2 separate regions of the Homo sapiens genome follow, and region 1 is linked to region 2. A link means that fine-mapping ties the variant in region 2 to the expression of a gene that starts in the linked region. Tissue or cell type: whole blood. Region 2 holds a variant in brackets; the other region holds the start of a gene. All regions are shown on one strand. Distances are from middle to middle.

Region 1 (2,500 bases), 110 kb after region 2:
ACCATGGGCTATAGAATGCATACTGTGTTAGCAGACATGTAAAGTAACATTAATCTCTTTGTACATCTTCATCAGAGTTCCTTGGTGACCAGGTGCCTTGTTAATGACCAGTAATATCTTGAAAGGAATCCTTTTTTCTGAACAGTAGGTCTCGATAGTAGGCTTAAAATATTCAGTAAACCACACTGTAAATATGATGTAAAGACATTCAGTAAAGAGATGTGTGGTCATCCTGGGTTTGTTGTTGCATTTACAGAGCATAGGCATTTCTAGCTTCGTCATTTCTAGCTTCGTCATTTCTAGCTTTTGATATAAAGTGAGAGACATGGAACTCTTCCTTTCACTGAACACTTAGGGGCCACTGTGGGGCTATTAATTGGCCTAATTTCAATATTGTTGCCTCTCAGGCTACAAGGAGGACCGAGAGGGAGGAGAGAAACAGGGAACTGGCAGGTAGTGGAGCAGTCAGACACAACACTTAAGTTTGCTGTCTTATACCAGTGAGGTTCGTGGCCACCTAAAACAATTGCAATAACAACATCAAAGATCACTGATCACAGATCACTGTAACGGTGCACCTGAAATAAAAAGTTTGAAATATAGCGATAGTTACCAAAGTGTAAGTGACAGGAAGTGGGCACATGCTGTTGAAAAAATAGTTGCTCGGTGCAGGGCTGCTTGCTACAAACTTTCAATTTGTAAAAAACACGGTATCTGTGAAGTGCAATAAAGCGAGGTATGGCTGTACTCAAGTCCCTCACATCATTCATTCAACAAATATTTACAACACATCTACACAGCAGTTAAGAAACCTGAACAGCCTCCCATAAAAACAGGTACCCACCTCCCACGCGGGGAAGGCTTCCAGGTTTGTTTACTGCGTTACTCCCTGCGGGCTCAGTGGGAGTAAGGTCGCCCATATACCAGCCCTTCCGCTCCTGGGCCACGGAGCCGGGAGGAGGAAACCCCTGATTTGGATCCGCGCACGCTAAGGGGCATTGCGTGGACTCGAGCACCGGCCAGGAGCGCACTAGACGCCTGGGAGGATGCGGTGCCCCCAGGGCGGAAGACAAGAAGCCGAGAAGACGCGGCGGGAGAGGATGGCAGGCTCCGGGCCCCGTCCTGCGCCCTCTTGTCGCACTTCCTCCATTCCCGCACCACAGACCCGCAGGTAGACAACATCACCTGCACTTTCAGGGGAGGAAGCGGAGGCTCGGACAGATTTCACCGGGCTCGGAGGAACCCGACTGAGGTCCTTGCCGGGCTCACTGCCGGAAAGGCCGAGCCCAGAAGAGGGTGGGGACGTTAGGGCCGGGCCTCGTACCTGGGGAAGCCGAGCCATCGGGCCTGACGTTGGGAGAAAACCCGGCGGTATACGGCGATCCGGGACCTGCTTCTTAACTCCCGCGCGGTCCACGCCCGCCTCAGCGCTTCGCGCGCCTCTAGACGCCAGTCTCGCGCGGGCCCGCCCTCGTCTCCACGGCGACGCGGCGCGCACGAGGACCACCCCGCCCAGACCCCGGGGCTTGCGCAGCCTCAGTCGGGTAGGTGGCGCACTTCGGGTTGCTTTGCAGCAGCAGCAATGAGAATCGGTTTCGAGGGGCGTGGAGCATGCACCCTCTGGGCATCCCCACCGAGGGTTCTTTATCTCCTTGGCTCGCCAGCTTCGCTCTGAGCTCAGCTTGCTACTGCTCCTCTTAGACAAGAGAAGTGGGAGGTATTCCGAGGCGGAACCCCGAGTTACGCCGCCCGCGGCCGAGCACTAAAGATGAGGTTCCAGCTGGGAGGCGGCTGCGTACGAAAGTCCTCCCTCCCTCACTTCCGGACTCGTGCGTGGGCCTCTCTGGCTTTTGGTTCACAGGGAGTGGAAACCGGAACCCGTGGAGTATGACCCGCCCATGCGTGGACCCGGCAGGTTGCTACAACTTGCACTTGGAGGGGAGAGGTCCCAAGGCCCCCGAATTAGAAATGCCAGGCTCATCTCTTTTTGTAACCCTTCATTTTAAAATGTAATTAATAAGCACTCTTTTTGTTAAATTTTTAAATTTGGGCCGATCCTAATAATCTTAAAAATAGGAGTGGGAGGGGTAAGTGGGACTTTTCAAATACTTTTTTACGTGCTTTGTAAAACATTTGAAAGCACGTGAGATTCCTGGTGCAGAGACTAAAAGCAGTAGTTATTTATTTGAAAGATTTTACGCTAAAAACAGGAAAATTAACTTGTTGGGTGTCTCGGGCTTAGCATCACAGACAATTTGTATTTTTGCCCTATTTTCTACATGCTAATTTTTGCAATTAAAACATTTATTATTTATTTTTTGAGAAGGAGTCTCCCTCTGTAGCCCAGGCTGCAGTGCAGTGGCGTGATCTGGGCTCACTTCCACCTCCACCTCCCGGGTTCAAGTGTTTCTCCTGCCTCAGCCTCCCAGGCGCACGCCACCACGCCCGGCTAATTTTTTTTTGTTTTTTTGATAGAGACGGTTTTTACCATGTTGGCCAG
Region 2 (2,710 bases):
CAGATCTGTTTACTGTTGTGCTCCCCAACAGCCCTCTGAGAGCCACAAGCCTGTCCACAGCCTCCACAGGGGTGCCAGGGGCACCCTAAGAGTCACGTGCAAAATGCTGCTGGGCACGTGGAAGAAGACCCTCAGTCTGAGGGGGGAGGAGGAGGAGCCCCCACTTCAGCTGCAGCTTGGAAGAGAGGGCAGCCTGTTTTGCCAGGGTGGAAACCAAGGCCCAGTCACAGCAGTCAGAGCAGCCCAAGCCACGGATGGGGAGGACAGCGCTGGTCGCCAGGCCATGCCCTCTGGCTCCCTGGGTTCTGCAGGAATGGGCCACATCCTGCATTTTGTTTTTGTGTCACCAGATTCTCCCTTTGGTGAATCCTTCTTAGGCCCTGAGAGAACTTTCTTTTTGAGACAACAGAACAGGGTTGAGAGCAGGGCACAGATGCCAAGATGAGGAGCCCTCCAGGCCCACTGAGGCAGGCAGGGAAGGCGGCAGATCACAAGTGGGAGGCACCCACATTAGTGCTGCATGCTGATGCCTGGGCTCTGTCCTAAGTGTGTATCTCTCTACCTGTCATCTCACTTGATCTCCACGACAACCCCAAGAGGTAGGCACTGTTATCCCCATCTTACAGATGAAGACATTGAGACTCAGAGAGGGGGCCTGCTGGAGGTCACACACACAGCCAGGTTATGACCGCCAGCCTGTACTTCTTCAGCACTCTGCATAATGGGTCTTGTGACATCCTCCCCTCAGTCCCTCCTCCCAGTCCCACCCTTGGCCTGCCAAGGTGTGCCTGAGACACTGAGGCCTTAATACAAGCCAGTCAATTGTTCCCCAGGTATTTACTGTGTACCTACTACGTGTACACTGTCTTGCAGCCCAGTCTCCCAAGCCTCTCATACCATCTGTAATGGACGTGGCAACCCAAGCCTGCCACCGCCTCCCTCTAAGGAAAGTCCTTCAGAGAGCAGCGGCTTCCGGCAACACTCAAACCCGTCGCCTCTAACTTCCCACCATGGCCAGGAGTGGGCACCTGACCCTTAAGGCAGCTGACCCAAACTGGCCAAAAGCCTCTGGAGCTTGAAGCTGCACGGTCAGGTGCCCAAAGGGTCAGGTGCAGAAGCTCCAGAGCCCAAGGTCTGGCTAAAGCCCTCGGCTTCTTTCTTCGTAAACTAGAAACACAGTGCTGGTTTCTGAGCTGAGGAGAAGCTCCAGGACCCAGCAGCACATTCGTGGCGCAGTAATGCAGCCGTGTGGGATGGCTGACCCCAGGGTTTTGTCCCCAGGATGTGTGTTGAAACATGCTCATTAACACACACGCTACAGTC[G/A]GAACCAAACCAAAGCTGATTCAGTTTTGTCCTGGAGCAAACTCTATTAAACCAACTTAACCACTTGGTCAATTTCTCTATGGGCCAATTTAAACAATTTCTAAATGTTTTCACTTTTATTTGTATTTTCATTTATTCTAAAAATGAGCTGTCCCCTTCAGCGTGTCAGATTCTCCTACTATGGGACCCCTAGCTGTGTTAGGAGACAGCTCCCCATGGGTCTGCCGCGTGTCTGTGCATCTTGCAAGCAGGGGCATGGACTCCTGTTCTAGACTATCTTTCCAAAGATTTTTTAAAAGAGACTAGGTCTTGGCCAGGTGTAGTGGCTCACGCCTGTAATCCCAGCACTTTGGGAGGCCGAGACGGACGGATCACGAGGTGAGGAGATCGAGACCATCCCAGCTAACACGGTGAAATCCTGTCTCTACTAAGAATACAAAAAATTAGCCTGGCGTGGTGGCACACACCTGTAGTCCCCGCTACTCTGGAGGCTGAGGCAGGAGATTCGCTTGAACCCCAAGAGGTGGAGGTTGCAGTGAGCCGAGATCGCACCACTGCACTCCAGCCTGGGAGACAGAGTGAGACTCTGTCTCAAAAAAGAGAGAGACTGGGTCTCATTCTGTCACCCAAGCTGGAGTGCAGTGGTGTGATCATAGTTCATTGCAGCCTCCAGCTCTTGGGCTCAAGTGATCCTCCCACCTCAGGCTCCCAAGTAGCTGGGACTATAGGTGTGTACCACTGTGCCCTGCAATCTTTCCAAAGATGTATATACAGCAGGCAGCAGGACTTCCTGAGATCGAATTAGAAAGTCTCTGGCCCCTAAACATTTAAGGGCCCAGCTACACAAGGAAGCAGGACGCTAACACGGTGGGGGCTGCCCTGACAAGCAGCAAGGACTTTCCCATCAAAACAACCCCCTCCCCAACCACCCCAAGCTCCTCCATTCCAGCTTCTTTTCTTTATTTCTCTGTAGATCTCAAGCTCTAGCCTTCCATTTTAACATAAACTGGTTGGCAGTCAGTTGGGAATAGATTTCTAAGATATACTGGACTGAACAGTGCCCCCTCCACACCTGCCGTATTCATGTCCTTCCTGGAACCTCACAATGTGACTTTTATCTGGCACTAGGCTCACTGCAGATGTAATTGGTTAGGATGGTGTCACACTCAAGTAGGGTGGGCCCTTCATCCGATATGACCAGAGTCCTTCTAAGGGACCCAGACACAGGAAGGGAACGATATGTCAAGATGGGGCAAAGACTGGAGCAATGGGTCTACACGTCCAGGAAAGCCATGACAAGCAAGAAACAAGCTGGGAGAGGCAAGGAAGGACCCTCCCCTAGAGCCTGTGGAGAAGCATGGCCCTGCCACACCTTGATCGCTGACTG

What was found. PIP is the estimated chance that this variant, and not a neighbour inherited with it, causes the effect.
Region 1: SFI1 starts here. The variant in region 2 is fine-mapped to the expression of SFI1 in whole blood (TOPMed, PIP above 0.99).

What each region holds. Positions count from the first base shown.
Region 1 is chr22:31,495,462-31,497,961 of GRCh38, reverse strand. SFI1 (SFI1 centrin binding protein) reads right to left here and starts at 1,426. Exons shown (of 33, transcript NM_001007467.3): 1 at 1,325-1,426. RefSeq lists silencers at 405-464, 1,365-1,584 and an enhancer at 1,075-1,344.
Region 2 is chr22:31,608,222-31,610,931 of GRCh38, reverse strand. All of the region lies in intron 22 of SFI1 (SFI1 centrin binding protein), which reads right to left. Among named protein-coding and RNA genes, the nearest start is that of MIR7109, 12 kb to the left of the region's middle. RefSeq lists an enhancer at 168-814. The variant G/A (reference allele first, on the strand shown) is at 1,324.